Regions from separate parts of the Homo sapiens genome. Here regions 2, 3 and 4 are each linked to region 1. Evidence: fine-mapped QTL for protein levels in blood plasma. Region 1 holds a variant in brackets. A gene starts in each other region. All regions are shown on their reverse strands. Distances are between the middles of the regions. Region 1 overlaps EDEM3 (ER degradation enhancing alpha-mannosidase like protein 3). Region 2 holds the start of HSD11B1 (hydroxysteroid 11-beta dehydrogenase 1). Region 3 holds the start of CD274 (CD274 molecule). Region 4 holds the start of CD79B (CD79b molecule).

What was found. PIP is the posterior inclusion probability: the model's chance that the variant is causal. Protein levels are from antibody-based Olink assays in UK Biobank. Linkage for the fine-mapping came from a reference panel and not from the study's own genotypes, which makes the PIPs less certain.
Region 2: HSD11B1 starts here. The variant in region 1 is fine-mapped to the plasma level of the HSD11B1 protein (UK Biobank, PIP above 0.99).
Region 3: CD274 starts here. The variant in region 1 is fine-mapped to the plasma level of the CD274 protein (UK Biobank, PIP above 0.99).
Region 4: it holds the start of CD79B, and the variant in region 1 is fine-mapped to the plasma level of the CD79B protein (UK Biobank, PIP 0.93).

The regions. Positions count from the first base shown.
Region 1 is chr1:184,699,820-184,707,990 of GRCh38, reverse strand. EDEM3 (ER degradation enhancing alpha-mannosidase like protein 3) reads left to right here. Exons shown (of 20, transcript NM_025191.4): 18 at 1,183-1,348; 19 at 4,995-5,180. Among named protein-coding and RNA genes, the nearest start is that of EDEM3, 51 kb to the left of the region's middle. The variant C/T (reference allele first, on the strand shown) is at 5,027.
Region 2 is chr1:209,701,428-209,709,598 of GRCh38, reverse strand. HSD11B1 (hydroxysteroid 11-beta dehydrogenase 1) reads right to left here and starts at 4,753. Exons shown (of 6, transcript NM_005525.4): 1 at 4,569-4,753; 2 at 3,658-3,788; 3 at 2,779-2,890; 4 at 2,471-2,656. The coding sequence starts at 4,656. All of the region lies in intron 1 of HSD11B1-AS1 (HSD11B1 antisense RNA 1), which reads left to right.
Region 3 is chr9:5,447,319-5,455,489 of GRCh38, reverse strand. CD274 (CD274 molecule) reads right to left here and starts at 4,948. Exons shown (of 7, transcript NM_014143.4): 1 at 4,894-4,948. RefSeq lists enhancers at 4,672-4,831, 5,122-5,171.
Region 4 is chr17:63,929,447-63,932,484 of GRCh38, reverse strand. It overlaps CD79B (CD79b molecule), which reads left to right and starts at 154. Exons shown (of 6, transcript NM_000626.4): 1 at 154-290; 2 at 1,100-1,150; 3 at 2,100-2,411; 4 at 2,597-2,715; 5 at 3,010-3,038. The coding sequence starts at 224. RefSeq lists enhancers at 1-174, 148-537 and a silencer at 1,235-1,304.

The sequences.
Region 1 (8,171 bases):
GAGTCATAATTTATGTATATAATATGCTTACAGAATTTTAACTAAAATATTATTCAGGTTCTATTCAATTTCTTGGTCTCTTCTCTAATTTAATACCTGTAATTGATCTAAAAATGGTTTTCAGACTTTCTAAGAGCCACTAGAACCTTTCTTTGAACAAAAGTCTAAACCAGGAGCTTAATGTAGAAAACAGCTAAAAGCACAGAAGCTCTGGCTCAAGTGACTGGAGAAAGCCTGGGACCCTGAGGTTCCACTGGGCAAACTTTGAAGATCATTTAGCTAGTCCATCCTCTATAGTTGTAACATAGTTATAACGTAGAAAACAAAGACTTACATAACTAAGCAATTCACAAAGTTATCTAACTAATTGATTGCAGAGCTGGGACCAGAGCCCAAGTATCGTGACAATCTAAAGCCAATGCTCTTTTCACTCTATTACTGCTAATTTAGACTTTTTTCTCATGTATATTTTAAACTATGTAGAAGCTATATAGATTGATTGATTCATTCAACTGTTGATTGAGTGCCTACTATATTCTGTGCACTGCTTGCTGTATCAGTTTACAAAACCAATGAAGATCCATGCCCTTATGGAATTTACATTTTAGTAGAGTGAAGGATATTAAAACATCTTTATAGTAACGTGTTTAAAAAAATTAGTTCCTTGGTGGATTTAATTTTTTTGGTAAAAAGAACTGCTTGCAGATTCATATAGACTAAGTCCATTTTTTCCCCTTTCAAAAACTTTTCTTGTTACCAATGATCATTTCAAATTAGTTCCCAGCTATTGTAAATGTAGTGAATCTGCCTGCAGGTCCCAACTTTACTGCTTAGTAACATCGTGTTAACATTGTGAGCAAATTACGTAACCTGAGTCTCAATTTCCCCATATGTGAAAGGGAAATGTTATTTGTATTGTTTTGCTCAGGGTCATTATAAATAACAGATTTTGTAGTTTATATAAAAATGTTCTATAAACTGCAAAGCACACTAGAAATATTGGTTGAGTACTGTGATATGCAAAATGTTTAAAACAATATTTTATGGTGACTATATGTTAGATACGTTATCATTAGAAAAGAAATGAGTTCTAGTTCTTTTAAAACTCTAGATATTGAGGTTTAATGACTTGATTGCCATTTGAGAAGATTAAAGTATTTAAGTTGCTTTTATTTCTGACAGACAAGAGGATTTGTTGCAAGCAGTAAACCATCCAATGGTTGTTCAGAGCTTACTAACCCAGAGGCAGTGATGGGAAAAATCGCACTGATACAAAGAGGACAGTGCATGTTTGCAGAAAAGGCACGCAACATCCAGAATGCTGGAGCCATTGGTGGCATTGTTATTGGTAAGTAATCATCCATGTCATTGTGTTGACTGAAGGGGAGATAATTTTTAGGATTTTTTCCCTTTTATTTTCTAAAATTTTATCAAAGAGTTTGTCATAGTTTTTTTTACCTCACCTAGACAACAAGGATAGGTAATCCAATGACTTTTAATTTCTAGATATCTAACATCTTTTTTAAAAGTCTAGATTTGAATTTCTGTATATTAATGTCAGTGAAAATACTTGGGTTTAGGTGTGAGGGTGAGGTAGGGCTGAGTAGTAAAAAAATTCAGTACCATGGATAAGAAAAGGTGCCCATGAGATCCATAACCCCCGAAGGGCAAGAATTACACTGTGCCACGTCCAGTGGGGAGCCATTGAAAATTTCCATTACTCCACAAAGATGCAGGCTTTGGAGGCAGACACATGAGAGTACAGTTCCTGGCTCTACCACAAAATTGCAGTGTAACCTTGGCCTAGCTTCAGTTTTTTAATCTGTAGATTAAATAGTATAATTTTTTTTTATTTGATAGTAGAATATTTTTGAGCTCCAGTGGAAGTGATAATAAATATATTTTAGGTGATTGTAAGGTTTAAAGATATATAAAATTTCTTGGCATAATAGCAGACATAGGATAAGTGCTACTATAACAGGGTTTACAGTATTGCTAGCAGATCTTTATCCCCTTGGATCTTTTTCTACCGAAATGACAAGTTACCACCTTTAAATCATCTTACCTATATGTATCAACTAGTGGGTTTTGCTTTTTTATCTTTCATAGACAATCACTTATATCATGATAAACAGGCCATGACTATTAGGGGAAATATAAATTTTTCTGTTTTAAAGTAAATAGGAGTTTACATTCAGAAAGAACTGTAAGACCTGGGCTCACAATATGCTGATTGTGAGTTCTTTTGTACAGCTTCTCTCACAGGGAAATCCATTTTGGATTCCCCCCTCCCCTGCCGCCCAATAGTTAAGGTAAATAAAAAAAAATAGTTCAGGTAAAACAGAATATTAACACTTATTATGTTGATTTAATGGATGCATAAATTTTATTAATAAACATTAGGAGAAGTCCTGTTTAATGACTTAAATCAGCAGTTGGCAAACTACAAGACTATAGGCCAAATCCAGCTCATTGCCCATTTTTGTAAATAAAAGTTTTATTGGGACACAGTCATGCCAATTTGTTTGTGTATGGTCTATGACTGCTTTGAACTGCAGTGATGGAGTTGAGTACTTACAGGAGAGAACTACAAAGCCTGAAATATTTATTCATCATCTAGCCAGTTACAGAAGAGATTTGCCGACCCCTGACTTAAATCATGCTCTTTATCCTTGGGTATTTCCCACACTTAGATTAGTTTTATTGCAGAATTTATTATATTAACCATCACTATCATTTTGAACAGTTCTTACCAAGACTTCAAAATGAAAATGTAAAGTATAAAGTGTAGAATTTATGCATTAATGTTTAAAAATATTTCTTTGTGTAGTATTTTGGTTTTTTATATTTTTCAGTGAAGTCTAATTCTCATGATCTTCTATAGTATGCAATAATTGTCAATTTTTGTTTTGTTTGTTTTGAGATGGTGTCTTGCTCTGTCACCCAGGTTGGAATGCAGTGGCGTGATCTTGGCTCACTGCAACCTCCATCTCTCAGGTTCAAGCAATTCTCCCTGCCTCAGTCTCCCGAGTAGCTGGGATTACAGGTGCCTGCCACCACGCCTGGCTAATTTTTATATATATTTTTTTCTTTTTAGTAGAGATGGGGTTTCTCCATGTTGGCCAGGCTGGTCTTGAACGCCTGACCTCAGGTGTTCTGCCTGCCTTGGCCTCCCACAGTGCTGGGATTACAGTCATGAGCCACCAAGCCTGGCCCGTCAAATGTTTTTTTTGGTAGCTATTAGTTGGAAAATGGTATACTGGGTTCTGTGGATAAATAAATAAGAGATGATGATCCTTACTCTCAGAAATTTTTTTTTTTTTTTTTTTTTTTTTTTTTTTGAGACAGAGTCTTGCTTTGTCACCCAGGCTAGAGTGCAGTGGCATGATCTTGGCTCACTACAACCTCCACCTCTAGGTTTAAGTAGGTCTTATGCCTCAGCCTCCTGAGTAGCTGGGATTACAGGCACGTGCCACCAAGCCTGGCTAATTTTTGTATTTTTAGTAGAGAAGGGGTTTCGCTGTGTTGGCCAAGTTGGTCTCAAACTCATGGCCTCAAGTGGTCTGCCTTGGCCTCCAAAAGTGCTGGGATTACAGCCATGAGCCACCGCACCCAGCCAAAAATTTAATTTTTAATGAGAAACTTTCTTGTGTTGACTTCTTTCTCCTGAGTTTTTTGTTTCTGACAAAGCATTTTGTTTTTGTTTTAATTGTATATAAATGAATAAATTAGGAATTAGCTGTTTTTTGTTGCAAGGGTTAGAAATACGAATTATCTTAGAAATCATGTGGCTGCAGGAGATAATTACGTTGGTTTAAGAAGGGAGGTTTTTTCACTACACAGAAATGGATTATTTTTAGTGAATTAAACAGTACAAATACAACTAGGATTCACCAGGAGGTAGAAGTGGGAACTAAAAATCACCAGGATCCATGATAGTGAATGTTTTTCACTTTTCTCTCTGTATCTCTACCTCTGGGTCCTTCTGAACTTTTCTTCCCTGCTTCTCTTTGCAATTCTGCTTCATTTTCCAGCTTCTCACCAGCCTTCTCTCTCTTTGTTCCTCAGTTCCAAAATGGCCATTCTAGTTTGCAGCCTCAGCCCCTAAGTCTGTGTCATTCAACTGGACTATTACCCCCTGCTAACTGAAACAGTCTTTCTGTGTGCCAGTTCCAGGTCCCCCAGAGAGACTCAGGGTCAGGTAGCCATCTTTTGTCTAATCAATTATTACCAAGAGGATGGGTCATGCATTCTGCACTTAGCAGGTCCTATGAGAGTGAGCACCCTGAGACAGGACAGATAGTTTCTTCTGGGAGACTGGCATGCGATTTGGAGGTGGTCGTGATTGTCGTCTTCAGTAAAACAGCATGTTGCTGGTACTACTACTATTAATAGTTCTACTACTATTATTTAACCAATGCAAAATAGCAATACTGTTTAGTTTAGCTTATAGAGGAAGAAGCACTATAGTCATAACTATTCTTTGTGTGCATTATATAAAAAAGAAATGTCCATTTTTAGTTTGGTAAAACAATGTAATCATGCCAGTAGTGGAAATTTTCAACAATAAAATTCATTCATAGTTCTATCACTGTAATCCGAGTCATTGATTTTTTCCTTTCTAGGCTTTTCCATAAGCATATGAAATTTTTATAGTCATAATCATAGAATTCTGTATTCTACTTTTTAAATGTATTATTATTCTGTGTGTCCTATCAAGTAGGTCATTATAATTTACTTATAATGGTGTACAGTTGTTTACAATTATAAATAGTCTAGTAAAATTATTTGGGCATAGGGCTTTTCGCTACTTTTGAATTATTTCCTTTGGATACGTTTCTATGAGAATTAATGGGTCCAAAAATTATGTTGGTTTTTATGGTTCTTGATGCATAAAATTAATTCTGTCATTGTAAAAAATCAGTAACAATTAGTAGATAGATCTTTTTAATGGCTGGATATTTTGATGTTTGCTGTATTTATTTTCTGGCTAGATGACAATGAGGGGAGCAGCAGTGATACTGCC[C/T]CTCTGTTCCAGATGGCAGGTGATGGAAAGGATACAGATGACATCAAGATCCCCATGCTGTTCTTATTCAGCAAAGAAGGAAGTATCATACTGGATGCCATCCGGGAATATGAGGAGGTAGAAGTGCTCCTCTCTGATAAAGCAAAAGATCGAGGTAAGAGTAAAATACCATTTGTTTTTTTATGCAGCGTAATATTAATTTTGCTAGTTTGATAACAAGAATGAGTCACAAAAAATTGTTTTGGGGGGTTCACTGTGAAAACAAGTAAAACTTTTAGAAGATGATTTCAAAATATATTTTTCTTTTGGAAATAAGAATAATAAAACATTTATTTTGCTTTGTTTTCTGAGTTAGGATGTTTTTAGACATATGTTTTTATGTGTGATTTGTAATTTTTGCCCTGAGTCTGTTCAGGTGATAAAAATACAAGAGACTGCTTCAGGAAAGCCATTTTAACATCCGGAAATGTTCACAATTTGATTTCACTGATACTACATCTTACATGTCTTTTATAAGGAATGAGAAGACATATATAGAATGTTGTATACAATATCATAGTAGTTAGTCTCAACAGGCCACCTATAATCAAATGACTGCTGTCTTGGTGAAGGCAATAGAAATCTAGCAGCTTCTTCCCAATGAGATCTAAGTTTATCACATGGATATAAGAGTTACAAATGGCTGTTTCTGAAAAACAAGATAGCATGTCTTAATTTATGAGAGTAGATAGTCCTCTGTAGGCCAAAATGTTTGTTAGTAATTTGAAATGTCTTTGAAACCCAAATTACAATATAAATGCAAGGCCTTACTAGTATTCTTACATAGTTTCACACCCAGGGATAGAGGAGAAATGAGGGAATGTGAGCCTTCAGATCTTGCTTGTGGTAGCAGTCTTTCCTGTCTGCTGGAGAGACCTGAAGAGAGAGCTAAAGTTCTCCCATACCCTTAAATAGATGAAGTTGCATAATAGTACAGGGTTGTTACATCCCCTGGGGTGTTTGACAGATATGTAGGAAACTGATTCAATTCAATGTGACTTCCAAGTGGGACATTTAAAAAAAAATGTTCGGTGATAATCATGCTAGCATAATCATGCTAGCCTAATTTTGTCTTCTTGTATTGCTTTATTCTTCTTTGAGATTCTTTGAAATGTCAATTATTTATGAGCAATGGAGTGAGCAAGTAGGTTGTTTGTATATAACAATGTATAGATGGAAACAGAACAGAATACAAAGGTTTTCTAGTCTTAAATCCTCTGTATACCTGATTTTTTTTTCCTGGGCCCTTTTCTAAACTCAGATCTTCTTGCCTACATATATGCATTTAGGCACATCTAACATAGGCAAATTATTATTTCTTGTAACTCTTTAATGCATTTGCTTTTTTTCCCCCTATTTTGTGCTACCACTGGAATTTCAGCAGCAATATTAAAAGGTAAAATGATTCCAAGCTACATTATTAATAGTAGTAAGTATCTTGCATTAACAAGCCTTAAATTATATACGTATATATGTATTTGGGTGTGTGTACACACACTCAAGTACATATATAATTTTGTTTCAGTGGATACCATGATAATATCTTGTGTAACGTAATTAGATTATTTTCATGTCTAGTCAGCAGTCACATAATAATTTTAAATTCTAATAATTATACATCCCATACAATAGATGAATTCTATGTCTATGTCCATACAAGAGTCACTCTAACAAAGGCATTGTTGTTTTAGTATTTATTACTTTGATCACATTTTATTTGAACACAATGTAAAATATTTAAAGTATTGACTTGTTTTAAAAGCTCATGTGTGTGTATGGTACATGGGTTAGGACTACAGGATTATGGTACAGCATGTGCTTCCTGTACCAGAGAAAGGTTATGAGACATGATTAATTCTACCAGAAAATAAGAATTCTTGGTGAACAGTATCCCCTTAAGGACCTTGCATTAAAAGGGCATTATTTAAAAGATATTTTTTGAAAACTTTAGTCTATAAATTTATTGAACTGTGATTGTTATAGAGTGATCTTTTGATAAAAGTATTGAAAAGCCCCCTTTTTGTGTAATAGCTCTTTATAGAACTGTACAGCTATATTAATTAGCAACAAGATACAGTCTAATTGTTAATATTTATTAATGTAACAGAAATCAATGGTAATAGTGTTATGAAATCAACAAATGTATTCACTTAGGATATCCTAAGAAGCTACACAGTCTGTAGCGGTTATCATTTGTCCTATACCATTACTACATACATCAGTGTTTCTCCCCTGCATCAGAATCAACAGATACACTTGTTAGAAGTGTTGGCTTCTGAGTCCTGCTCCAAATATTCAATCAGACTTTCTGATTCAGACTTTATGATTGGGAATCAGAATCTGAAACTTCAAACAAACATCCCGGGTGATTGTGTTGTAGCTGCTTCCTCAGCTACACTTTGAGAAATATTGAACAAGATTCAGAAAGCACCCCTTTTTTGTCTCCCAGCTATGTATCAGGCCATATTGTACCATTACAGGTACTAGTTAACAGATTATATAAGTACACTAAGTAACAACATCCTTAAAATCTGAACAATAAAATGTTCTCCAGATTGCCTTTTCTAGAAATGTCATTCCACAAATACGTATTTTTCCATATGAAGTCACACAATGCTGATTAAGAAGTCCTTTTCATATTTAATACAGAAAATAGAAGCCCTTAAAAAGCCTTCACTCCTGTCTTCTTCTTCTGATAAGTCCATGCCATTAGTATAGATGTATCTGAAACTGTTCTGCTAGCAGAAATTTTCTGGTCATCTTAATACACATTTAGAAGCCAAAAAGCATTAGCATTTTATCAAGTGATGTTGCTTCCTTAGGTCAAACCTGTGACACTTCTGAAAGTTAAGCTATCCACAGTCTATTGTTGAACAGAATTTTCAATATCATATCTCTCAGTGTTTCATTTTTCCAAAATTTCAGTTTGTAAAGGTACTTAATTATTCCAACCGTGTGCCCACAAACAAAAGGCAATGTTTTGTTACCTTTAGGTCCAAATTGAAGCAGTTTACAATTAAGAGTAAATTTCCTTTTTTCAATAGTATTTGTCACAGGGAAAAAAACATCAGCATTTTTAAGTTCCAATTCATTGTCATGCTTGCAG
Region 2 (8,171 bases), 25 Mb before region 1:
CATAGGACAGAACTACCATATCAGCCCTGGACTGCCTTTCCAGGGTGTTTTGTGTGAGATAAATAAATTTAGATTTGCTTAAGCCATTGTAAATTCGGGTCTTCGTTACAGTAGCTGAACTTACATCCTAACTAGCAAGTGGTGGAAGGAGAGGAGGCTAATCAATGTAACGGGATGTTACACATACAAGAAACTTGCTCAATAGGTGCCAAGAAAAGGTGGTGAATAGTGGATAGATGTGGACTACAAGGAGGTTCCCAGAAGCAGCAGTATTGTCTCTGTTAATGCTACAGAGGTAACCAAGCCTTTAAGGAACATATTAGAAGTATAGTATTCCCATGTAATGCAATACCCAGAAATGCATTGTGGAGAAAAAACAATTCTTTATCACTGAAACTCAATAAACAACTTAAGGTATTCCCTAGAAGAAATGATTAAAACTCCATCCCAGTACTGTTTGGCTGACCTTAAGATCAACTTGATGTTTAGCATCCCATATTTATAGAGTTTAGATTTTAAAGAGGAAGGATTAATGAACATGTTTACTGACTGATTAAAAGAATACATCATAAAGCAGAGAATATTCTTCAGTTGCGGCAAGACAGCAATGTGTCTGTACTTTGCAAGTTCATAGACAGGTTTCAAGGCAAAAAAGCTGGAATCTTTTGGCTACACAAGCAATAAACACCAAAGATACTCATCCAGCTAGATTTCCTACCTCCCAGAGTTCATGGAAATTACCAAGTGTCATTCAATAAGTGTAGGAGATATGGGGAAACAGAGATTATCAGAATTTCATCACGTCCTTGGGCTCAACAGTAATTCTTAGTCCTTCTGAGCACATTTAGATCATGGGTACATTCTAGAAAGTTACATTCGTCAAAGGTGAAATACATCCTTTGCCTAGAGTGAATGTATTATTTAATCAGCTGAAATCATTAAAGCCACCTACATCATGACTGATGTGAGGATTTTGTCCAATGCCCTGGGATGGATTGGGGATGTGCCCAGCACCCTCCCACTCAGTATGCATCTGGAAGCTCTCCCTTTCTTCCAGCCCAGAGAGAGTCTGTGTCTGGGGAGGGGTGGGGAGTGTGTGTTGTCTGGGAAGCACCGGGATGCATATCAATCACACTGTTTGGCGGGTAGCACAGACACACTGCCCCTTTATCCAATCACTATGCAGGCCGTCCCTGGGCCAGAAAGGAGAACTCTTTACGATACAGATGGTGCTATTAGTTTCAATAAGAATGTTTGTGAAGTGCTTAACAGTTTACAGAGTCCTCTAGGTTATTTGTTTTTATTTTGCCAGGAACAACATTTAGATGGCGGATTTTGATCCTGGTGTTTGCACTTTCCAGCCACATCCTTCTAACTGACTAATCAACAAAGATGTGTGGAACTTGTCTCCTGGATCTATGATAAAAATGGGCCTAGAAATGTCCCAAGCTGGGAACTCACTGGTTTTTTACTGGTGATGGCTTCTGATGCTACCACCATCCAGAACACCAGGGACCTCTCTTGATCCCACAGATATCTTTTCATGACCATTTCTCTGGACACATTTCCTCCCTACCCAGCTGGTTGTTTAAATTGATCTTTTCATGTTAACATGTTCAAATTTTAGAGAATACACCCACTATAGGCAGGTCTGTTCATCTTTTTTTTTTTTCTTGTTGTTCATTTTATTTAGCTTTAGCTTAGCCCACTTATCAGACACCTGTGTGTTGTTAAAACAGTTAACTTCTCAGTTGTACCTTCACATTTACATAACTTCACCAACCTTTTGGTCATGGAGGAAGCAAAGTCCTTTTTATCCATTGTGACTAGGTCTCTCACTTAGGACCAGGACAAGCTGTACCTCCAGCAGCCTCTCAAGTCCCTTCAACCTTCCTTTGTAGAAAACAATTCAGGCTTCCAATAGGCACTCTGAACTACTGCTTTTTCTCTGCTACTTAAAAGAATTTTGTAGCCCATCTACCTTGACCAATCCTTCATTTTTTATGGTGTCACTAGTTTGTAACAGTGTCTCCTTTACTCAGGATGCGTGCCTCTCATTGAGTCCACAAATCACCCCCCTACAAGTCTCTTATCAGTACATCTGCCCATTCATGCATATGAGTAAGCTGTTAATCAGCTTTTGTTTAATATTACTATGAACATTTCAACTTCAAGTTAATATTGTAACTAGGTCTCTCCCTTAGGACCAGGACAGGCTGTACCTCCAGCAGCCCCTCAAGTCCCTTTGACCTTACTTTGTAGAAAACAATTCAGTCTTCCAATGAGCACTCAGAGCTACTGCTTTTTCTCTGTTACTTAAAAGAATTTTGTAGCCCACTTACCTTGACCAATCCCTCATTACTTCTCTGCATGGAAACTGATAAAAATTTATGTCTACTTCAGAGCCTGGCATCATCCCTGGCATTTTTTTTTTTCTTCTACCTTCCACATATGTCCCTGTCCCACTTACCAGCCAGAGAGGAGACGACAACAATGCTTCCATTGCTCTGCTTCAGCATGGGCAAGGCAGCTACAGTCAGGACCACGTAACTGAGGAAGTTGACTTCCATGCTTTTGCGCACATGGTGAATATCATCATGAAAAAGATTCAAAGAAGTGTTGGTGATGTGGTTGAGAATGAGCATGTCTAGTCCTCCTGCAAGAGATGGCTATATTAAGAAATCATCTGGGGTTGATACCTTTCCCATTCTCCTCCCAAAAGCTCTTGGTGACCCCAAGGGCAAAGTTCAGAGGAGGAGGTAAGAGAAACAGCCTCACCCATGAGCTTTCCTGCTTGGGCAACAAATTGCTCTGCGAAGGTCATGTCTTCCATGGTGCCAGCAATGTAGTGTGCTGAGGCTGCTCCAAGCTCCAGGCAGTGGGATACCACCTGCAGTGATACAGCAGAAATGGCATCAGTCTTAGCTGCAGATTTTTGGGGGGTAGTCTCTGAAGTAACGGGGGGCTTAAATGAGAGATTGCTCACAGCCCTGTTTAGGTAAGAAATGGTAAGTATGTTTGTGTGTGTGTTGCCTAATATAACCCTCATGATCATCGTCCTCTGTCTGAAATATTTTCTGGAACTTGGTGGGGTTCAAATGGATAAATCATCCCAGTGCTGGGGTTTAAGTTCATGATTTATGCTCATGGCTTCTGTGAATAGGCATTTCTGAGGGCATTATGAGTGTAGATGCTGGTTACTATGTGGGTAGCTCTAGGTTTGTGAATGTTTGTACATCCTTGGGTTTGTGAGTCCATGAGAGGGCATGTGTCTGGGAGTCTGCATGGGTATGAGGATATGTATTCATAAGCAGGTACTGGGATTTCAGTTTTTGAAAACATCCGTATGTATCTGTAGTTCCATGTGTAAATGTGTGTGACTAGGCATGTCTGTGAGCATATATAACTCAAGGACTCTGTTGCAGAATATATTACACACACACACATGAATGAATGCTTAAATGCATACTTTTATATTCCTGTGGGTTTTTTGGTGTTTGAATCTATATATGAGAGTGCAAAATTAAGTGTCTGTGTGTGTGCATGTGCCTCTGTATATAGATCTGCGATATGCTAGCTTCTGTGTATATGTGAGCATATATAAGAACACATCTGAGCATGTGACGGTACACATATCTGCGAGCATAGAACCCTCACCTTCTGTAGAGTTTCTTTTGACCTCGCTGTCACCACCACATGGGCTCCCATCTTCGCCAGATGATAAGCCATCTCTCTTCCGATCCCTTTGCTGGCCCCTGTGACAATCACTTTCTTTCCTTGGAGCATCTCTGGGGAACCCCAAAAGGAAGTGAGGACCATACCCAAGTTGGCAGCAAAATTCCTTCTCCCTCTCTGGATATAGGCATGCTTATCGCAATTTGTAACTTAAAGGTTATGAGCCCAGATCAGTTTGTCACAAACTCCGTAAATCACTGTGGGAACAGGCCAGGTCTTTCATAAACATGCTCTGAAGTGGGAGGTTTGGGCTGACAGCCTCCCTACTGTCATTTCTAAAAACCTCCATGGAAAGAGATCATAGGATGAAGCCAGAAAAGTCATGGTTCAGCTAAAATGCTGGAGTTCCAGACATTTCTGGACTCTTTCAATTTTGCTCAATTGAAAGTACATTTAACAAGGAATCAAAACACATGTGTTCATAGAAATTCCAGGGATTTTCCCTCACTTCTATGTAGTCATCATCTCCAGTTTTTTTTTTTTTTTTTTTTGCCTCCCACTTATCAGTCTCTTCATAGAGCCCAATTAGCTGCTGAGTTGTGAATTTGGGTATTACTCTCATTTTTGTAGAAGATTTGAAACTGCTTTCCATTAAGGGTGCCAAATAAAGCATGGCCTATTTGGCTAGATTTTGGCTACACGATTACCCTTCCTACACAGTCCCCCCTGTCCACAGCCTGTAGCTGGAGGACACAAAAATACCATCTTAACTCAGGGTTCCCTCATTTTCACCAACTTTGAGGATCAAGAACACATCTTGGTCCTCAGGAACACTCAAGCACCCCTGTGTTTTTTAAACCTATTCCTCCAAAATGAGACGCATGGGTACTTACCTGGTCTGAATTCCTCGTTTGCAGAATAGTAGTAGTAGGCCATGAAGAGCCCCAGAATGGGGAGGAGATATTTTTTCATAAAAGCCATCCGACAGGGAGCTGGCCTGAAGACTCCTGTAGGACACACAGAGAGAACCTACAGAGCTTTCTACAACCTCCTAAGCAGGCAGCAGCCTCTGAATTGTGACATCAGGGACGGGGGAGGCTGGAGTAGTCTCAGGCAGTGCTAGCCAATTTCCCTGTCAGAGCAGCGATTGGCTTTGGGTGGGATCCCATTCGTCCCTGGCAGCCTGTGTGGTGGATTTCATAATGGACAATGTTTACTCCATTTCATTGAGCAAGAGGAGACTTCCAGATGGCCAAGCTCATGACTGTACAGGACTGGATTCCTGAGCATCCCTACCCGAGTCCATCTTACTCTTAACACCATTTACGCCAGGGATCAATGATCTTTCAAAAGTAATTTGTCAAAGACAGAGAGAGAGGAGTGCATGTAGGGCTTCTGGGGGGAAATGTGAGTAATAGCAAAGAGAGCCAAACTCAAGCCAAATCTCACTCTCAGTCCCCCTACCCCCCCACCCAGTGGGAAGCAATTAAAAATAACAGCACAAAACAGCAAAATAAGCTTAAGAAAAAAAATGTGCACATTTTGGGAAAAAATAATGAAAGCAAAGAAGCTCTATAAGCCCCACACTCAAGTTCAATGAAAAAGTATTACAACATCAAAGGAGAAATTGCAAGCCAGCCAGAACCCAGATGGCGGGAAATCCAAGACTGGTTCAAGACTCTAAGGCAAGTGCAATGGATCATACACTTATTATTTTAACAGAGAACAAAGAAGAAATAATGAGTGACAAAAAAGGCACTAAACTATTAAACTGGGTCTTGTAAATGCTGTAGAGCAACAAGAAACATGGAGAAGATGCTAGGAAGAGGCGACCTGATGTAGAAGAAAAAAGAACTAGCATTAGGCAAGTGAAACTAGCTGGGGACGCCCACACCAGCTAAAAATAGATCTAGTAACAGTAAAAGGACGAGGGTGGTAAGAAACCCTTAGCAATTTAGAATTTATTATCAGGGAAATATAAAAATAACCACCTCAGTATGTCCGTAGCACGAATTCATTAAGGAATAATCCTCAAAGAAAGAATTTAAGATGTATCATTGTTAAGTTTTTCAACTCAAAACCAACCAATCAACTCATGGAAATTACCCCATCACAATGCAGTCCTGCATTCTGTAAGTTATCAGTAGAGCGGGGAAAAAATTTAAATGTGATAATAAGTATCAGTGCTTTGGAGGAGGGATAGGAGTTGGGAGTAGTGGGGGGACAGAATTTACACAAGGTTAAGGGAAATTAAGTTATGATTCCAAGTGCAGTATCTGGAAACATTCATCAAATTTTCACTTTAGAGTAAGAGAAAATAATTTAAGACCCAGAGGAGATGAAACAATTTGTCAACAAAGGCCCACAGCTGTGAGGGTCACTTGTAGAAAACAATGGAGATTTGAGAACAGTTGAGGGCTAGACAGAGCTCGAGGTCTATGAAGGACAAAAAGAGAAAAAAGATAAAATTCAAGTAAAAATTAGATTACATGCCTTTAGAACTGCAAGCTACATTTGTATAATTTTATAAATATATTTATGATACCAGGATATATTACAGACTACACTCCATTTTCATCCCTAGAGGGAAGGCAGTGCCAGCCAGAACCCAGATAAGGTTTATTTTCTTAATCCTATACTATTAATAGTAAAATTATAGGAAACAATGAAAAGTTATTTGGAAATATGATGATGTTGAAATGATAGAAAGATGGGCAGACTAGGGATGTTTATTGTCTGACATAAAAAATAAATAAAGAATTTTAAAGTCCATTAAGAAAACATAAATTTAAAGAAAGCAAAAATAACAATGAGTAAGATAAACTGCAGAGTAATAGAACACAAAGCAAATGCATTAACAATTGCTGATTGTTGGCTCCATTAAAAAATGAAGTCCAACATTGTGTGGCCTCAAAAGACACATTTAAACCCAAAGACACAAACAGATTAATAATTAGATGACCTAATAGCTACGATGCTAGAAAATAAGGATATGGCAAAAGCATCCAATAAAGTGAGTTTCATGGGATTAGATAAAATAATTGCTATATAAAATGCATTGATGAGAAACAAGGACACTGTGTAATGGTAGTTGATGCATTAAATCTTACCAGTTCTCAAATTTTTGGTCTCAGGACCCTTGTATACTCTTAATAATTTCCAAGGACCTCAAAGAACTTTTGCCTGTGTAGGTTTTACCTATTGATATTGCTATTGCAATTTATGCATTAGAAATTAAGACTGAGGATTTTTTTCTAAAGCTCAAGAATACATAAGCATACATTCCATTAGCATTCAGGGCAGTGGCATTAGCATACATCCTGTAGCCTCTGGAAAAGTCAGGTAATGTCTTAGTATAATTATGAAAATAGTTTTGACCTTTCAACCCTTCAAGAGGGTCTCAGAGACCCATGGGGACCACACTTTGACCATATTATATAATAAACATCTAATCCACTTTGTGTCCATATTTACATGGCTGGTTCTCTCATTAGCTTGTAAACTCCTGGAGGACATAGATTATGTCTTTTTCATCTTTGTCTCTTTCCATTTCCCACTAGCCTTGCTCCAAAATAGGCATTCAATAAACTTGCTGTTTTAGTGTTTTTGAGATACTGCAGCAATGAGAAAATTGCTGTCTTCCTGGAGCCTGGTTTAATCTGGGGAAATCACTGGGATTCAGCATTCTGGTCAGAACAGATCAATCCCATCCCCCAAATCTTCTTTCTGGGGTTGTCAACAAAGTTTTAAAAAATAATAAAGACAAAATGAAATACAACTGTTTCAGCTAGCATTTGTTTCAAGTCAAGTATTCCCTGATTGAATTAAAGTTCCATAGAAAAACAGTGAACAGTTCACTCCACTCCTTGCACCCTCCTTTGTAATACACTGACCATTCCCATTCCAGAGCAGGCTTTCAGCAGATACCTGGAGCCTACCTGCACAGAATGGGCTTTTCACTGCTGGAGGTGAGTATTAGAGCCCAGCCAGGAATTCTCTCTGATTTGATCATTCTCACCAGAATAAATGGAATCAAGCACAAGCAACAGAGTGAGAAGAACATAGGGGCTGAATGAACAAGAATGGGACTGTGAAGGATGGGCCAGATCTGGGGAGACTGATAGGAGATGGCAAAAATGTGAGGAGGGGCAGCCAGAGGGGAAGTTCCTTGCATTTGGCATAAAACGTTGATCATGAAAGAAACACCTGTCATTTAGAAGGTGGCAGCTGTAGTGCTTTTCATGACTATTTAGTAGATTTGTTAAGCAAGTGCTCCCATTTGAAAATGAAATCTTGTTGGGCAAACCTCAGAGTAAAAAGTAGGTAAACACTGTGTTCAGAGGTTCTGCCTTTCCTGGGAGAATAACACTGCAACGTTGAAACAGGAGAGGATCTTTGCATTACATGAGAATTGATAGGGTCTGGCTGTGTCCCCACCCAAATCTCAACTTGAATTATATCTCCCACAATTTCCACATGTTGTGAGAGGGACCCAG
Region 3 (8,171 bases), not on the chromosome of region 1:
AAGGGGAGAGAGTTGGATTTGACTAATTCATACTAAGATATGAATGACTCACAGCCACTCTTCCAGAGTATCTGCCTAGATTCTATTCTTCATTTAGTCATCCTGCTTGAAATGTGACTAATTATTTCGTTTAGCAAACACTGATTGAGCACCTCTTCTGTGCTAGGCACTATTTTAAGCATGAGGAATACGGAAGTCAGAGTGAAAGAAAAGTCACTCTCCTTTTGCAGTTTATGTTGAAGTAGGGGAGTAAAAGATTTATACTCTATTTCAGCCAATCTGTGCATTTATTAATATTTTCTCCCTCTTCTGTTATACATATATTTACAAACTTTGATAAGAAAGAGGTAAGTTTTCCCTCTTAGTGCCTCTCCAATCTTTGTATACAGACATGAACTCACAAATGATCAACTAATCGATGCCACGTATATATAAGACAGGAGATTAATGTTCCTAATATATAAATAGCTCCTAACAATCAATAAGACAACTATACAAACTACACATAACCCATGAGGAAAAAAAGTGAAAGGTCATAACATATAGTTCAGAGAATAAGAAATACAGGTGACATGTAAACATATGAAAGATGTTCAATCTCACAATAAAAAATATAAGATATGAAATACCATTTTCACTTATGAGCTTGACCACAATTGTAAATATTTCTAATATTTAGTGTTTGTGAAGATATGAACAAATAGGCTTTCTTACCCACTAATGGGAGGATTTTTTTCTTTAGGGGGCACTTTGATACTTCCTATTACAATCGTAAATGCGGATGTCATAAGACCTTTCACCCTCTCCTAGAAATCTATCCTACTAAAACAAAAACACACACACACACATATATATATATATGTCTGTATATGTAAAGGAAGAGCATTGCTCATAACAGCAAACTGAGAATATCCTAGATTGTCTAAGTGGTTAAACAAATTTTGGTATATTCACAAAATATAATACCATTAAGGACTGAATTCAGCATATGTACATGTACTGATTTTGTAAACACATAGAAAGTAAGTTGCAGAACACTACATGTAGCAGAAATCCACTTTTGCTGAAAAAAAAAAGTGTGTGTGTGTGTTTAGACACAGGAAATGTCCAAGATATTGACAGTGATTATATTTAGGAATTAAATTAGAGGGAGAACAGGTAGGTTTCACTCTTTATTGTTTTTAAAGGGAAAAAAGGAAGGAAAAGACAGAAAAAGAGAGATGAGATTATGGATTTTTTTTGGTGTTCTGTGTCCAAATTTCCAAGTGAAAGAATGTTTTATTTTTAGTATCAGGAAAAAAATAAAACCAAAATTTCATGAATCACTTCACCTTACCAAACCGTAGAATGTTTAGCAGACCAAGTGATATAATGGAAAGAACCCCAAAATGGAGTCCAAACATCCAAACTGACGTAGAATAATAACATTCGTTTATTTTTTATGTTTTTTTCTTTATTATTAAAGTAATATAATGGAATTACAGAAAATAAGAAAAGAAGGGGAAAATCCCCTACTATTTCATCACTCTCACCCAGGGAGCATCTGGTGATGCCTGGAAACATTTTTGGTTGTCAAAATTGGGCTGGTTGAGGGAGGACTGCTATTGCTATCTAGGGGCAGAGGCCAAGAGTGCTGCCAAACACCCTGCAGTGCACAGGCCAGCCTCCCACAGCAAAGACATACAGCCTAAAACGTCAACAGTGCCAGTGCTGAGAAACCTTGTCACCACTGTGAGCAAAAAACATTTCAGTGTATATCTTTCAATTTTTTTCCCTGTAATCTTTTAAAAAGTAATTTATAACCTTATCATACATTTAATACCCATTTGTTTCATTAAAGCTTATGGCATAAATATTGCCCATCTTACTGCATGGTATTCATAAGCATCTTATTTAACAGTTCCATAATATTTAATCCCTCTATTGTTAGGTATCAGATTGTTGCCAATTTTTTAAAATATCATAAGTATTTGTGTGTTCAGCAAATATTCGTTGAGTGCCTACTGTGTGCCAGGGCCCCAGGCTAGGCCCTGAGGATAGATTTTCCCAAATAGTGTTGCTGATCAAAGAAAAAGAACATTTTTCTGGTTCTCAACACATGTTGATAATTGGTACTGTTACACTGTATTTTCACCCATTGTTTAAAAAATATTATTTTTTTGCTAATTTGAAAGATCTGATCATTTTTTGGTCTGTTTATGTCACTGGTTTCTTATCAACCTGTATGAGTCCTTCATGTTAAAAGATAAAAAGGTTAAGTGAAATAACATGAGTCATCATCCTCTTGCCAGTGTTAGGTACCTATTTTTTTATTTCTTTCCTTTCCGTCTATCCTGTAGATGTGGAATAGCGATGGCATTCAGGCCTGTGAGGTCACATTTGCTAAAATGGGGCTGCAGCATCTATCAGACTATCTTTTCCTTGGGCCAGAGTTAACTGTACAGTTATAAAATATTACTTATAAAATATAAATATTACTTATAAAATATTTTATAACTGTACAGTTATAAAATATTAATGTGATATTTTATGATTATTGTATTATAAACACAAATTCACTTACTAGGCAGAAGAAAACTTAAAATACCCCTAATGCCAAGCAAAGCATTATAACCATATGGGAATAAAACAAAGGGACATTAAATCTAGTCATGGATTACAACTAATTTTGCCAATGTTTATGGCCTACTCTGGTGGAGTTCTTGTCCTTTAATGAATTTGGTTGAAATTTTTAGGAGTAATAAAGGCTTCCTGGAGGGTGATGGATTAGATCCAATATTTACTTAATTTCTTATCAAACCCTCTCTTCCACAGCTCCATTTCCTTGGGGTGCAGCTGTCATTAGTGAGGGACGAAAAGGCAGAATACAAAGATCATGTAAATACACACATGTTCTTTAACCTCTAAACCTCATATCAGGGCAGTTGGTCTAAGAGAAGAAGACTGACATCTTCTTCAGGTAAGAATTATGACCATATGTGAATTCCCATATCCGAATGGAGACATTTAAAGAGCAATGAAATGTAAACTGGGGAAGAAGTGATGGCTCATTCAGGTTGGGGAAGTGGGTTTGTCCCTGGGGGAAGCCCAGTATAACACTATGGAACTAATACTACTTCTCTATCTTCCAAGGGTAGGATGGGTAGGAGGATGAGATAGAGAAAAAGTTAAGCAGCCAGGAGCAGTGGCTCATGCCTGTAATCCCAGCACTTTGGGAGGCCGAGGCAGGCGGATCACCTGAGGTCAGGAGTTCGAGATCAGCCTGGCCAATATGGTGAAACCCCATTTCTACTAAAAATACAAAAATTAGCTGGGCGTGGTGGCAGGTGCCTGTAGTCCCAGCTACTCGGGAGGCTGAGGCAGGAGAATCACTTGAACCCGGGAGGCAGTGAGCTGAGATTGCACCACTGCACTCCAGCATGGGCAACAGAGTGAGACTCTGTCTCAAAAAAAAAAAAAAAAAGACAAAAAAAACCGGTTAAACTTCCTTTCTCAAAAGTAGGAGCAAGAGGCCTGCATGGTGGCTCCCGCCAGTAATCCCAGGACTTCTGGAGCCTGAGGAGGGAGGATCGCCTGAGGCTAGGAGTTCGAGAACAGCCTGGGCAACATAACAAGAGCCCCATCTCTACAAAAACAAAAAAAAAATTCTTAAGTAGGATCAAAGATTAAGACAGTTGATTTATTAAACCTCTACTAAGTGACCAAACTTTATTAAACTCCATGAAACCCCATGCCCAACCTCCTTCTCAGTCACACTGAGACACTCTTGTACATTTTCCACATGGGGTTTCAATTCCCCACAGTATTTCTGTGACTTCCTTGAAGACCACACTCTAACTGCTGTCATGTGGCCTCTGCCTACCTACTTTTACTGAGAAAGGCTAAGTTTTTCTTCAGAGTATCATAGTTCTCCTTAAATACTGTTGACGACTGTCATTGTCAACTGATACATCCTTTCTGGAAAGCATTTTCAGTTTTCTTCAAAAGGCCTTTAAAATATTCAGGCTCTTTGACTAAGTAGTTACACTTCTAAGTTTACTTGAAGGAAACAATCAGCAATATTCCAGAGATATATATGCAATGAGTTCAGTGAATGGCTAAGACAGAACCACTGTAAATAACCTTTATACCCAACAGTGAGGAATTAATTTCATTTAGTTACCCAATCTAATCGAATGCAGCAATGAAAACATTTTTTAGAAGGTTATTTAATTCATAGAAAAGCATCCACAGTAAATTTTTTTCAAGTATTAAAAAAAGAGGTAGAACAATGGTACTTTTACTCCTTGTGTTATAAGACAAACCCAGACTGAACTTTGACATAGGCCAAGGTCAATGTGTCTAAGAAATGTTTTATTATACTATTTTTATTCTTAGGCTCCTCCATTCCTCTTTTAGGACTCCTTTGGGTTCTCAGAATGGACAGAGCAAATAAATTCCGTTCAGGGATCCTGGACCTGCTTAGCGCAGGAAGAGACTTACTTAGATGCTGCAGCTGGGATAACTTACACAAGTCATGTTACTAGCAAGCAGCTGGCGGTGGACTTGGACCCGTGTCCAGACCTCCAGCCTAGCATCAGAGCTATATTCTGAACACACAGTCGCATAAGAATGACTACCTATCCTATACTACCTATCTTATTTATTTTTAGAGGTATAAATTATTTTTAGAGCAAAACTGAATCGCGCCTGGAGGAAGGCCAGATGCATTGCCTGTTCTTATTAACCCCAACAGGTAATTGGCTCTACTGCCCCCTAGACCATCGCGTTCCCTTTCCCTTCTCCTCTCTCCATCCCAAAGAAAGGGTGTAGAGACCCTCCGTCCTAAAGTGCCCAGCGAGCTAGCCAGAGATACTGGGCCGTGGGCACCCGCGGAGGAACAACGCTCCCTACCTGCAGGCGGACAGAAGCGCGGCTGGTGCGGAGCCTCGGGAAGCTGCGCAGAACTGGGGCCGCGCGGGACGCGCCAGCTGCTCAGCGTTGCGCCAGGCCCGGAGGCGGGGTCCCGCCCACCTCTGCCCAAGGCAGCAAATCCAGTTTGCCGGGCGTTGGACTTTCCTGACCTTCGGTGAAATCGGCGGAAGCTTTCAGTTTAGGTATCTAGTGTTGGTGTCCTAGGAATAAAGCTGTGTATAGAAATGAAACAGAAAGTGAAACATGTCAGTCCAGTTTTCTTGTAAATGAGATTTTCACCGGGAAGAGTTTCGAAGATTAAAGCAAATCCACATTTAGTATGTTATTAATAAAAAAAGAAATTTACAACAAGCCAACATCTGAACGCACCTTGATTTTACCTTCAGAGGGGTAAGAGCTTAAGGTTACCCCTTAACCTTTATCAGAAAGGCGTCCCCCTTTCTGATAAAAGCCTCTTCAAGGTGACTGAACATCTTGACATAACTTGATATAACTCTACAACATATAAAAAGTCAGCAGCAGACCCATATGGCTTTGGTTTTTATTCTAGAAAGTAGGTGTGTGTGTGTGTGTATGGGTGTATAATAGGAAATATATTTTTAAATCGTGGATTCTGTGACTTCCTCAAAGTTCCTCGACATAATGAAACTTCATTTGCTTTGTCATTAAAAGAACTTCCCATCCCGAGCTACATCTTTTAAGAATGCTCAGGGTCCCTGATATTCTGCCACCCTAAGGATTAAGGCTGCGGAAGCCTATTCTAGGTGAGGGTTAAGAAAGCCCTTTTGAAAGCTTTGGGTTAGTGAATGGGCCCAAGATGACAGACGATGGTGTCATAATTTACTTAAGTATTATCCCGCGCTGAACTTCTAGGTGCTCTCTTTTCTCGAACTCCTTGACCTCAAGTGATCCGCCAAAGTGCTGATATTACAGGCTTGAGCCACCGTGCCTGTGTGCTCCCTTTTCTTTTTTTTCTCTTTTTCTAAATTGAGAAATTGGACTCTTCGTTGTTTGCCTTTCCTTCTTATTCATTTCAACTGCAGTTCAAAATACTGCATAATGAATGAATATTGAGATAGCCCTTGCATTGGTTATGACATTTGCTTCCAAAATAAGAATTTTCACATTCTGATTGTATCACAGATTTTTATTTTTATCTGGGAAATTATTGAGGCTGACACTGCCTTGATTTGGCAGGAGCATGGAGTTCTCTTTGGCCCCAATAAAATTGCAATAGGGTTTGGGCCCAGCTCAGATGTTCCTTCTTTCAAATCACTTTTGAGGTCACATAGTAGAATAGAGCAATTTTGGTGACTGTAAGTTTGGGTGACTTCCCAAAGTTCCCGAAGTTGGGTGACTTCCCAACTTTGGTGACTGTGACCTCTAGGAAAATATAGACATTATGTGGCAATACAGTTTACAGGTACTGCATATATATAGTCTGTGTATGACACACACATGTACAACAAGTTTCATGAAAAAATACTTAGATCTACTATCTGCAATGCCCTCTGATATTTTCATTTAATGTTTTATTTTTCTAAAAATGGTCAAGACCCAGGGCATAAACTTTATGATCTGCTAGTTCATCATGACTCTTGAGGTCTGCAAAAAACAAAACAAAAAAAAACAACTGGCTTCAGAGCCATCTACCACTAACTAGCTGAGTTAACTTGGGCAAATAATTTACCAAGTAGCCAGGATTAAATCATATCCTCCTAGATGGCCTGGATGATCTATGAATAATTTTTTAAACTGGGGATGGGTATTTTGTTTTTGTTTTATGAAAGCAGTGTTCAGGGTCTACCTAAATGATCAATGAGGCAAACGGAATTTGCCTTTCTCTAAAGTTGCTGATGGGAATTGAGGGTATTTGCTCAGCTTGCTGCTCAGTGATTTGCGTATTAGTAATGTGAGGATTCGTGTTTTTGTTCATCTTTCCCACCTGTTTCTACCCTTCAGCCATTCATTTTCCCATACAATTGATCAACTACCCGGAGATTGAAAAACAGGCTGTGTTTAGAAAAAGAGAAATTTTATTACCTCAGAAAAATATGTAAAGCAAAACAGATGGTTAATGAGTGGGGGGTTAAGTCCTGAAACTCTGTGTGAATTTTTTTATTTGGACGAAATAGATGGAGAAGTGCTGAGATGGGAGAAGAGCAGTGGGGAGCCAGGGCTGAAGAGCTAGATACTATGGTCATCTTGAATACCACCACTTCCTATTCATGTAACATCTACTCTATTCATTTTTAGACATATAAATTCATCATTGCCAATGTGCTGTTTCTCAGAGTGTCTCTGATGGTTACTTGCATTACACTCGACTTGGGGTTAATGTTTAAAATACAGATTCCAGGGTTCTGCCTGGGATCCAAACTTGGGGGCAGGGTCTTGGAGGTCAACATTTTAACATTGTCCTCAGGTGAGTCATGTTCACATTTGAAGTTTTGAAAACTAGTGATTTAATATTTAAGGGAAAAAATGAGCCAAGAGTTCTTTGCAAGTACAGCTGTAATTCGCTTTCTTCCATCTAATTTGGCTGATTTATCAGTACCATCCTTCCTTCTGCCTCTGTCTACCCTGCTTGCCACTTTTGCTTCTAAAGCAGGAGAGATGATCCTCGTTTGTACTGATCTCAGGAGGACTGATTTCAAGATCTTATAAGTGGACCTGAAGAGATGTGAGCAAATTCCTGGTGAAGGAGCAATTTCCAGTAAATGTTCTTGATCTTCAAAAGCAGCATATACTAAAGAGACTCAAAACAAAAGACATGACAAACTGCTTTGTTTGCATCGAATATTTTAAAATGCATTTTATTATGTATAAAGACAATATCAAGATTTGTCTCCAGGTTCTATTTTTGATCATGTAGGGTTTTAAACCACTGCCCTATGCAATGCTCATTTCTCTTCCTCTGTTTCCATCCAACCCCTCACATTTGTTGCCCCTACCCTTGTCATAGACTCACATCCTATATGTGTCTCGTGTCAAACAGACTTCGTGGAAAGAATACTTTGTTCTAGTTACACAAAACAATGGTTTAAATGACAGGGGTAATTAACATGTATGGGTGACCAGAGAGTAGCAGCTGTCCTCATCTGACACTCACAATCAGATGCTTCTCTCGCTCACACTGTGTCTCTCTCCTTCCTGTCCTAAGCTGGGGAAGAGCTGGGCAGGTGAAGAGCTCTTGCCTTCAAAGGGCAGACCCCATGCCACAGGTACTTTAAAACAAAGATGAGACCTCCAACAAT
Region 4 (3,038 bases), not on the chromosome of region 1:
TGGGCGACCGCCAAACCTTAGCGGCCCAGCTGACAAAAGCCTGCCCTCCCCCAGGGTCCCCGGAGAGCTGGTGCCTCCCCTGGGTCCCAATTTGCATGGCAGGAAGGGGCCTGGTGAGGAAGAGGCGGGGAGGGGACAGGCTGCAGCCGGTGCAGTTACACGTTTTCCTCCAAGGAGCCTCGGACGTTGTCACGGGTTTGGGGTCGGGGACAGAGCGGTGACCATGGCCAGGCTGGCGTTGTCTCCTGTGCCCAGCCACTGGATGGTGGCGTTGCTGCTGCTGCTCTCAGGTACAGAACCCACGACGAGGCCTGTGGGGTTTGCTCTCATCTCCAGCTGTCTGGGCCCTGCGGCTCTGCCTCCTGCTTGCTCCACCCTCCTCCTCTGTCTCTCACTCTTTACCGCCTGTCTCCCTCTCATGGCCCTGGGGCCTGGGTCTGTGGGTGTCAGCTGCACGTGGTGATGGGCTCAGGAGCCTGTGGCCCCAGTTCCTCTCCTGCCTGGAGAGCATCAGGCTGAGCTGGGCATGAGGAGCAAACCAGAGTTAGCAACCAGGACCGTGGAAGAACTAGGCTCAGGAGGAAGAGAGGCTGAGGGCGGTGCCTGGGGGTCGGGAGGGGAGAGGCTGTCCCAACCGGACCCTGGAAGATGCAAGATCCAAATGTGGTCCCCTCCTCTGGGAGGTGAAAGATCCTCCGGGCTGTGACTTTCTTCCTGTCTCTCTTTAAAAAAAAAAAAAAAAAGAGAGACAGGGTGTCCCTATGTTGCCCAGGCTGGTCTCAAACTCCTGGACCCAAGCGATCCTCCTGTCTTGGCCTCTCAAAATACTGAGATTTCCCTGTCCCTCCTGTCTCATTCAGATGCCTGCTCAAAGCCACCATGAGGGTCAAAGGCAGAAAGGGGGCTGGGGGCAGGGCTTCCGGTACCCCCACCCCATATCTGTCTCCCAAGTACTGGGGGCAGGGAGGACCGAGGGGTCTTGAAGCTGCTGTCATGGAAGGAGGAAGTAGCTCCGGGAACATAGAGGGCATGCAGGGGTGGGGCAGCCCAGGCCAGAGGAGGCCCTGACTGGCCCCGCCCACTTCCTCCCACCCAGCAGCTGAGCCAGTACCAGCAGCCAGATCGGAGGACCGGTACCGGAATCCCAAAGGTCAGTAGCCTCGCCTGCCGCTTCTGAGGGCAAGTTGTGTGCGACTATGTCCTGTGTCCGACTATGGTCCCTGTCCTGGGGGCGGTCCGCCTTCCCACCCTTGCCTGATCTCCCCATCCAGGATTCCCATCCCCAGGCCTCCTTAGGATCTCCTCTGAGCCCCACCCCCAGCCCACTGTCATCCTCATCAGACACATGCCCTCCAGCCTTGGCCACTGAAGGGCTGGGCTAAACTCTGGGTCATAGCAAGGGAGCCTGGGGGTTCCTCTAGGACTCAGGCCCGGGCCTGTCTAGCTGGGAATCTGGCTGAGTCTCGGGTGAGCCCTCCAGTGCAGGGTCACTATGTGAGGGGCTCAGGGATTCCCGGGCAGTGCTCACTAAGAACAAGGCAGTCGAAGCTGGAAAGAGGGTTCTGGAACAAGAAGTGGACCCAGTCCCTGCAGGAGGGAAGAGGGGGATGATAGAGGGAAGTCATGCAGGGAGGGGGTCGACTGAGGAAGGTCTCAGTTGACAGACTAGGAATTTGGCCTTTATCCCTGGAGGAACGGGGGAGACTGAGGATTTCAAGCCTGTGCAGGGCAGCCCAGTGAAAGGAGGGGCCAGGCCTGTGGGCCTCCAGGTCCTGGGGGTGTGGCCTGGGTCAGGCTGTTGTAATGGGCATAGGAAGGAATGGCAAGGTCCCAGGGCTCTTCCAAAGGAAAATCGAAGGGGAGGTGGGGCAGTCGGGAAGAGGTGGAGTCTGAGAGCTTGGCCGTGGCTTCTCATGTGGCTCAGCCTCTCACGTGGCTCTGCTTCCCAACTCCAACCTCAGCCTCCTGCCTGTCCCACACCCTGAGAAGCAAGGACTAAGCCCAGGGAGTCTGTGCCAGCCAGGGCAGGGGCCTGCTGCTGGGGCTGGCACTCAGGAAGATGCCAAGCGGAATGCTGAGCCTGGCCTTGGCACCCACAGGTAGTGCTTGTTCGCGGATCTGGCAGAGCCCACGTTTCATAGCCAGGAAACGGGGCTTCACGGTGAAAATGCACTGCTACATGAACAGCGCCTCCGGCAATGTGAGCTGGCTCTGGAAGCAGGAGATGGACGAGAATCCCCAGCAGCTGAAGCTGGAAAAGGGCCGCATGGAAGAGTCCCAGAACGAATCTCTCGCCACCCTCACCATCCAAGGCATCCGGTTTGAGGACAATGGCATCTACTTCTGTCAGCAGAAGTGCAACAACACCTCGGAGGTCTACCAGGGCTGCGGCACAGAGCTGCGAGTCATGGGTGTGTGCCAGGTGGCTGGGACGCTCCTGTAGCTGTCCGCCCCACCCTAGCCCGGCCTGCCTCTTGTGGTGATGGTCATGGCCCTAGAGCACTCAGGAGAGCCACTGGGACCTGAGGGAGCTGCCCTTGTAGGCCTAAAAGGTGGACTGTGGCCCAGGCTCACAACCCCACCCCTGTCCCCGCAGGATTCAGCACCTTGGCACAGCTGAAGCAGAGGAACACGCTGAAGGATGGTATCATCATGATCCAGACGCTGCTGATCATCCTCTTCATCATCGTGCCTATCTTCCTGCTGCTGGACAAGGTGATCAGGGGACGGGGGAAGCCTTGGGGGACCGCAGAGGAGGCCACCGCATAGGCCAGGCATATGCAGGGTCTCCATCTCCCCAGCTCTCGTTGTGGCCTTCTTGGTCCAGCCTGTCCCCACTGGCTCACCAATTCAATCATTCCTTCCTTCCTTCCTTCATTCAGCTGTTCTTGCAGAATGCACCTCACTCCTGACCCCTCACCCCTCTCCCTGGCCCTCCCCAGCCTGGCCCAGCAGGGGATGGGGCTGGGGGACACTAACACTCTGATCTCCATCCCTCTCCGCCCCCAGGATGACAGCAAGGCTGGCATGGAGGAAGA